2 linked regions of the Homo sapiens genome follow. The protein of the gene in region 2 interacts with the protein of the main gene of each other region in a pairwise test. Each region holds a gene or a part of one and is shown on either strand. Other genes may lie near its edges. The genes, in order: WDR4 and ZNF84.

Evidence for each region.
Region 1: the proteins of ZNF84 (region 2) and WDR4 interact in a two-hybrid assay, tested with the Homo sapiens proteins (one large-scale study listed by BioGRID and IntAct).

What each region holds. Positions count from the first base shown.
Region 1 is NC_000021.9:42,858,733-42,862,539, forward strand, and holds part of WDR4 (tRNA (guanine-N(7)-)-methyltransferase non-catalytic subunit WDR4), read right to left. Parts: intron 3,663-3,807; coding exon 3,550-3,662; intron 991-3,549; coding exon 930-990; intron 1-929. UniProt on the Homo sapiens protein: Non-catalytic component of the METTL1-WDR4 methyltransferase complex required for the formation of N(7)-methylguanine in a subset of RNA species, such as tRNAs, mRNAs and microRNAs (miRNAs).
Region 2 is NC_000012.12:133,036,048-133,040,470, reverse strand, and holds the start of ZNF84 (zinc finger protein 84), read right to left. Parts: upstream 2,963-4,423; 5' UTR 2,926-2,962; exon of another isoform or gene 1,459-2,925; intron 1-1,458. UniProt on the Homo sapiens protein: May be involved in transcriptional regulation.

The sequences.
Region 1 (3,807 bases), on a different chromosome or scaffold from region 2:
ATTATGGCCACACTTTTCTTCTTCTCTCAGGTCGCGTGGCTGTGTGTTAATTTGAAGAGCAGGAACAGGAGGCTGTGAATGAAGCCCAATCAGAGAAGAAACATAGAAGCGGCCAGAAGGTCCATCAGCCATCCTGCCACACCACACAAAGGACCAACACAGACAACACAGGGAAGGACAGCGAAGAGGAAGGTGGTGGTGTGCGGGCAACAATTCCGCAAGAGGACAGAATCAGACCCTGTGAGGAATCCAAGGCCCTCACTTTGGCAAAATCACTAACAATCCTTCTAACACATTCCTTAGAGAAAACACGTCTCTCATCACTAAACTGTAAGGCTTCCAGGACCCAATTGCTGGGACACAGAAGCTGTACCCAACAAGCAAAAATGCACTGTGGTAACCCGGGTGCGGGCGCTCGAGCCTGTGGTCCCAGCTACTTGGGAGGCCAAGGAGGCAGATCGCTTGAGCCCAGGAGTTTGAAACCAGCCTGAAAAATGTAGCAACACCCCATCTTAAAAAAAAAGAAAGAAAGAAAAAAAGGAAAGAAAAGGAAAAAAAATGCAGCCCGTAATGGGATGGACTGAGACCCCTCCAAGAGTCAGAGAAGCCCCCGTCTACTGTTTCTACCTGAGATCCTGATCCCCGATACCATCGTAGATGCAGCAGCCGCCCTCAGAAGGGAGCCTTCCACACACCCGTGCTAGTTCATCCCACAGGCGAACACACACGCACCTACGCACACCCCACACGCAGTCCTGAGTGAGCGGCCGCAGGCGGGGAGCGAGCCGCAGGCAGCTCTAAGATCTAGTGGACAGCCACAGCCAGCCAGGGGCCAGCGATCCACAGGGGCCAGGTCCAGGAGGCGCCCACCCCACCCTCCCTGCAGGCTCAAGAATCCAGAGGTGAGTGACGCTGGGCAGAACACTTACCCCAGAGGAGGACAGAAGCAGCCCGGGCTGAGTTGGCACCACGGAGATACGGCTCACAAACCTGTGAGGGCGAGAGAGAGCGGCAGAGTCAGCGAGCCCAGCGCCCGCAGGGACCGGGAGGCCTGGGGAGGCCGCCTGTTCATCTAAGGAAGAGAAGCCTCTGCCCTAAACCCCCTGATCCAATAAAAACAGCCAACATGGGAAGTAGCTGTTAACCCTAACCTGGTTAGGGTTAACCAGGTGGAGGCCCCTGGACGCAGTCGGGGAGGTGAGTGAGGTCATTCCTGGGTCCCCAACAGCACAGCAACCTCTAACCCAGGCCGCTCCTCAGCCATGCCTGCCAGAGACCCAAGCGCCTCTGTGCCCCTCTGCAGCCCCCTCTGCAGCAGCTCTGCTCAGCGGCACCTCTACAGGCCCCCCAGCACCCACCCTGGCCCAAGGCACCTGCACTGTGATGAAAGGAGCCTTGGGGGAGACTCAAAGACACGGGGGAGACTCAAAGACACAGCACACAGGGAGGAGGGTGGAGGGAGGAGGGCAGCCAAGCCCACAGGTTCCTATCAGGGTCCTGACGGCCCCTCAGCAACAACTCTGAGTGACCTGGCCAGACAGCTGTCTCTGCTGAGCCCGGCCCAGTCCTCCTGTGAGGGGTTGGCCTGCAAGCACAGGACTCAAAGTCACAGGGACCCTCCCATCAGAACAGCCATGAAGAATAACCCAAGCAGCCCAGCTCGCCTGGAAACCCATCTTGGCTCGGGCACCTACAAGGGTGACAAGGCCCCTTTTCTTCCCACTCTAACACAGTGGCCTCAAGCAATCCCTCATGCACGGGGTTCCCGGGGACCCTGGAATGGGGTGGCCCGTGAGCCTCACTCCATCTCCACCAGTCATGGCCTCTGCTACCTTGGGCTAGCCATCGCGTGAGCCGGGCCCGGTCCCGCAGCCACCGCCCTGCACGGCACCACAGCACCAACAGCAGCCCACAGCCCAGGACAGATAGGGCACAGGACGCCCCGTGCAGAGGGCACGAGTGGCCTCACAGTTCTCAACGGTTTGAAAGGCCGGGAAACCAGTTTCCAGGGGTCTGAAACAAAATCTCAAAACATAATTCGTCCAATCACTGCAGTTATCTACTGAGCACCTACTCATGCCAGGCACCACGCTGAGGGCTGCACACACCAACAGGCCCAACAGACCCACAGAACCACTCAGACGCAGCGGGAGACGGCCAGTGAACCAACTGATACTGCAATGTCAGCAAAGGGCACAGAACAGCACATCCAGCAGAAACACACCTCCAGCCACACACAGGGGCCACGGGGCTTTGTTTTCAATTTGCCAGCCACTATGTTGAAAAGTAAACGGGCAGGCCGGGCACGGTGGCTCACGCCTGTAATCCCAGCACTGTGGGAGGCCGAGGCGGGCGAATCATGAGGTCAGGAGATCAAGACCAGCCTGGCCAACATAGTGAACCCTCGTCTCTACTAAAAATACAAAAAAAAATTAGCCGGGCGTGGTGGCAGGGGCCTGTAGTCCCAGCTACTTGGGAGGCTGAGGCAGGAGAATCGCTTGAACCTGGAAGGCAGAGGTTGCAGTGAGCCAAGATCACGCCACTGCACTCCAGCCTGGGCGACACAGCTAAGAAAGAGAAAAGAAAGGAAGGGAGGGGAAGGGTGGGGTGGGGAGGGGGGAAGGAAGGGAGGGAGGGAGGGAGCAGTTGAAGTTAATTTTAATACTATGTTTTTACTCAATACTTCTAAGTGATGAAGCATTTCCCTAGAAGGGTGAGAAGCGTGTTCCCGTCAGCAGAAACCTCCCTCACGTGCCTGGCGAGGCAAGGGAGCTGCAGAGACCCCAGCGAGAGATGGTGAAGGGGAGGGGCCGGGGGGCTGCAGGCCAGAGAACTCCAGAGCTGGATCACTAGCGAACTAAATGCAAGTCAGAAGAAGCTATCCTGAGGCACACACCAGTGACTGGCCTTCTTAAACAGGAAATGTTTGGATCAAAACCAGGAAAACACAGGCAACCTCGGCACTGAATTTCCTCCCTCCAATTTCTTCCACTGCCTCAAATAATATATTTTAAAACATTTCAGCCAATTACACTAAGCGTTTTTCCTTTGTGTAAATTCTAATGAGCTTTTTGTGTGAGACAGGAGCGGGCATTCAGAAACACCTCCACATGGGTCCTGGCAGAGTGTGCTGCCACGAGAGACGCCGCCACCTGGCTGCAGAGGCCGCTTAATTCTTGGACAGCTGAAATCACTAAAGTTCATCCTCGCCCCCAACACCCCCACCACCCACCAGCGAACAACTCCCGGGCATGGTGCAGGGGTCTCCACACTGAGACAGGGGTTTCCCGGAAACAAGCCCTTCCTGTTCGGTCAGGCCCAATGCCAAGTTACTGGCACAGACTCCGGGTAACAGCGCAGAGTGAACCCCACCCTTTCAGGGCTTCTGCAGGCAGCACCACGGCGCCTGCAGTGACCAAACACCAAGCACGGGGGCTGCTGTCACCCGCGTGGGGCCTCGCCAGCTACAACGGCACCTGCTGAGCCGCAAGCTGACGCTGTTTTCAAACAGACCTTCTTTCTGCTGGAGGGGCAGGAAGGGGCACTCACTCTGTGTGCCCCAAGCAGAAGGACTCGATGCTATGGGGCGCCGCGGCCCAGCTGACTCGGATCTTCTCGTCCCGGTCGGCAGTGAGGATGAAGCGGTCATCAGGACTCACAGCCTGCATCACCAGGGGCCAGAAAAGAAAAAGCCGCTCACCTGAGTCTTCCCGAATCAAGTCCCTCATGGAAGAAGGCAGGGAAGCTGCAGCCTGGCCGCCAAGAGGATGAGGCCTTCGAGGACAGACCAGCGTGGCTCCTCCCCTC
Region 2 (4,423 bases):
CTCCCACGTAGCTGGAACTACAGGTTTGTGTGCCTCCATGCCCAGCTAACTGTTTTTGTATTTTTTTTCTTTGTAGAGACAGGATCTCGCTATGCTGCCCAGGATAGTCTCAAACTCCTGGGCTCAAGCAATTCTCCCACCTCAGCCTCCCAGAGTGCTAGGATTATAGGCATACAACACCACACCTGGCTTCAGCATTCTTTTGGTATTTACGTGGTATGTTATCATCTGGTCAACTACACTAAAAATCTTAGCATCATTATCTTTGTCCCTTATAAGCAGCTCAGAGCTCAAATTTATTGGTGTTTAAAAAAAAAAAAATCCAAATTGGCCAGGAGCGATGGCTTACGCCTGTAATTCCAGCACTTTGGGAGGCCAAGGCAGATGGATCACCTGAGGTCAGGAGTTCAACCAGCCTGACCAACATGATGAAACCCCATCTCTACTAAAAATACAAAAATAAACCAGGCGTGGTGGCATGCACCTGTAAGCTCAGCTACTTGGGAGGCTGAGGCAGAAGAGTTGCTTGAACCTGGGAGGTGGATGTTGCAGCCCGTGCCATTGTACTCCAGCCTGGTGCAACAAAAGGGAAACTCCATCTCAAAAAAAAAAAAAAAATCCAAACCAACAGTGTGTCTTTTAACTGACAAATTGAATACATTTAATGTTTATTGTGGTTACTGTTTTTCCCCCCTCCTTTCTTGCCTTCAAAGCCTCAATTTCTGTACTTGCTAAAATGGTGAAGATAAAGTGGACCTCACAATGGGAGTCTAAGAAACAAATGAGGTGTTAAAAGGAAAGCGACTGGGGCCTTGTAATAACAGTTACAGCTAACATTCCAGTGCTTTCTGTATGTGAGACAATATACTAAGCATTTTAAATTTAACTCATGCACAACCCTATAAGGCGTTTAACATAATCTCCATTTTACAGAGAGAAAACTGGGACAATGAGTGATTGTAAAATGTGCCTGTGATTGCACATTTAGTAAGTAGCAAAATTCAAATGTTAATTCTCTATCCTGCTATGTTCAAAGCATGAATACTAAAGTCATATTGTCATTTGTGCATATCTACATGCACAAACACACACAACATAAATCCTGGAGTCAGCTCCTATTCCCATGCACACATTCAGTCACTAATTCCCACAAAAATATAAATGAAGGACGCCCTGCCTCAACTGTATCACACTAACAAGCAGCACTTTCTTTTTCATGCCTTTTTGTGGTTCAAACTTCAGTGCCAACTCAGAAACACACAGCAGTTTCTCCCAGTTATACAAGAAATGACTCCTTTATACCTTAAATTGTGATAATACATAAATCTTAGAACAAAAGCTGGCACACAGTCATACGAAACATATACTAGCTATAATTATTATTATAAAAGTAATATATGATGGCAAAATATAAAAAACATACACAAGCTAAATAAGAACTATTATCTATGATCTCACCACAGGTAACCATTCTTAGGATGATGGAAACTATTGTGATATTTTTCATACAATGGAAGCATATGGTCATATTTAAAAGCTGTTTTTGTTTTTTTCCCATTATGTGAAGAACATCTTTCCAGGTCAATAACCTTATTTCTGTAAGATATAAACAACTCACATAAAATAACAAAAAAATAAAATCCGACTCATAATTGACAAAATACATAAAATATGTAGGAATATCAAGACCCATATGAAGCATACTAAAAACACCAATGAGAACTATAAAAATAGAATTAAAGAAATTTATAATTCGATTTTATTCTGGGATAGGAAGACTTCAGATTGTGAAGATAATTTGACCTCAAATGATTTATATAACTCATCGACTCCAATCAGAATCTCAAAATTCTAAAGTTTATGTGTAAGAAAAAAGGTTCAAGAACAATTCGGACACTTTTTTTTTTTTTTTGACAGGGTCTTACTGTGTTGTCCAGGCTGAAGTGCAATGGCATAACCATAGCTCACTGCAGCCCTGAACTCCTGGGCTCAAGTGATCCTCCTACCTCAACCTACAGAGTAGCTGGGGCTACAGGCATGCCCTACCACACCGGGCCTGGATGCTTTTGGAAATACAAAATAATGAGTGTGAACAGGCCCACTGTAATACATACAAATTATAATCATTATAACATTTGACACTGGCTCCAGAGAAGTTATACAGATGAAAAAAAGCAAACTGTCTAAATATGCAAGAGTCAGCATGCAATAAATGTAGCATTTCAAAGCCATCAGTAAAATTAAATTATTTAATGAATACAAGAATATTTGAAAGAAAATAAACGTAGCTATTTCATACAACTACTTTCAGTGGGTTAAATTTTAAAATAATGGAAACCCTAAGAATGTCTACAAAAAAAAACCACAGGTGAATGAATATATGTATAATTTGAGGGGAGATTTCGCTACACCATACCAAAAGCAAAAGTCACTTAAAAAATTTAAAACAGTCAATAAATATAACCATTAAAAAATACACGGCCAGGAATGGTGGCTCACACCTGTAACCCCAGCGCTTTAAAAGCCTCCTTCGATAGCGGCAGAGCCAGGCTGCTGGTGGATGCGGTCCAGCAGGGCAGCCGCTCCTTAGGGCCACGGCGCGGCAAGCGGGCTGGCCCGAGGTCGAGGCTAAACGCGCCCGAGGCTAAACGCGCCCGAGGCTGGCGCCTCCACGCCCGCCTGAAAGGACGCCCAGGAGCGGCGCCTCCGGAAAGGCCGTGCCCGCCCCACAGCCCAGAATCCGCGCAGCTCCGCGGCCCACGGCATCTTCACGACCCGGCCCAGCCCCAACCCGCCCCAGACCCGCATCCGCGCGCGGACGCCCAGGGCCTTGAAGCCGAAGCTCCCCGCGGCCACTCCCGCGCGCCTCCCCCGCCATTCCCGGAGCCCCCAGCGCCGGGCCCGCAATAAACTCACTGAACTCACAAAAGACGCCGCCGCCGAGTCGCGCCCGCGCGCCCGCGGCCTCGCGATCACGTGACACCGCCCGTCCCCCGTGTCCCGCGCACGCGCCCAAACCGTCGGCCTTTGTGCGCTCCCGGGCGGCTCCGAACGGGCCGGGACGAGTCGGGGACTGCACACGCGCACACTCGCACGCGCGCACACGCGTACACTCCCCTCTCACGTGGCAGCGAAGGACAAAGAGGAAGAACGGGCCACCTGCAAGCATTACCAAGAGTGCATGTGCGCATGCGCGAAGGAAGGAGCCCCGCGAACTCAACTTCCCACAGTGCCCCGCGTCCGGAAGTGCCTGTCGCTTGGAGACGGAGTGACTCCAAACGGGCTCACACGGTTTTCTGAGAAACATAAAGGGAAACCGAATCCACCAATATATATATATATTTTCTTGAGACGGCGTCTCGCTCTGTCACCCAGGCTGGAGTGCAGTGGCGTGATCTCGGCTCACTGCAAACTCCGCCTCCCGGGTTGACGCCATTCTTCTGCCTCAGCCTCCCGAGTAGCTGGGACTACAGGCGCCCGCCGCCACGCCCGGCTAATTTTTTTGTATTTTAGTAGAGACGGGGAGTCACCGTGTTGCCCAGGCTGGTCGCGAACTCCTGAGCTCAGGCAATCCGCCCGCCTTGGCCTCCCAAAGTGCTAGGATTACAGGCGTGAGCCACCGCGCCCGGCCCACCAATACTCAATTGGTTTGACTTCAGTTGAGGAAACCAGAAAAAATTTAAATATATTTATGGAAAGAAGGTAAGAATTAACAGAAAAAAGTAAAGTTGATCCATAACTGGAGTCGTAGGGAGAATTATAGGTAAGTCACGATGCTTATGACAGCAAGATGGGGCCGGGGAGATGGAGGAGAGAGATGAAAAAAGAGAAATAACCATAGACACATAGGAAATTGAATGAAAATCCGCTCTATACTAATAAATTTGATAATTTGTGACACAAATGATTCTCCAGGACAACATGGGCCAAATTTGACCCAATTTTATCCACAATTTGAAGACAAATTCAGAGATCCTTTGCCAGAAAGCATCATAATGAGTTGCTTAGTGAATTGCTTCAAACATCCAGTGATTAGAGAATTCTTATATTTATTCCCAGAGGTAGAACTCACCAGTGAAGTACTAGCATAAAAACAGACGCATGGACCAATGTGGAACAGCGTAGAAAAACCAGAAATAACCCCATGCATATACAGTCAACTAATCTTAGGCAAGTCAACTAATCTTGTGTCAAGAATACACGATGGGGAAAGGACAGTCGCTTCAATAAATAGCGTGAGGAAACCGGATATCCAAATACTGCTACGCAAAAGACCTCATTGCCCGATGTGCACAGAAGCCAATACTATGGCACCAGGCGTTTGAGAAAAGAAAAGCTTAATTGCGAGTTGACCAACAAAGTGACAGGAGTTTAGTTCAAATCTATCTCTCTGTGCTGCCCTTAAGGCAGCACTATTGTGAAA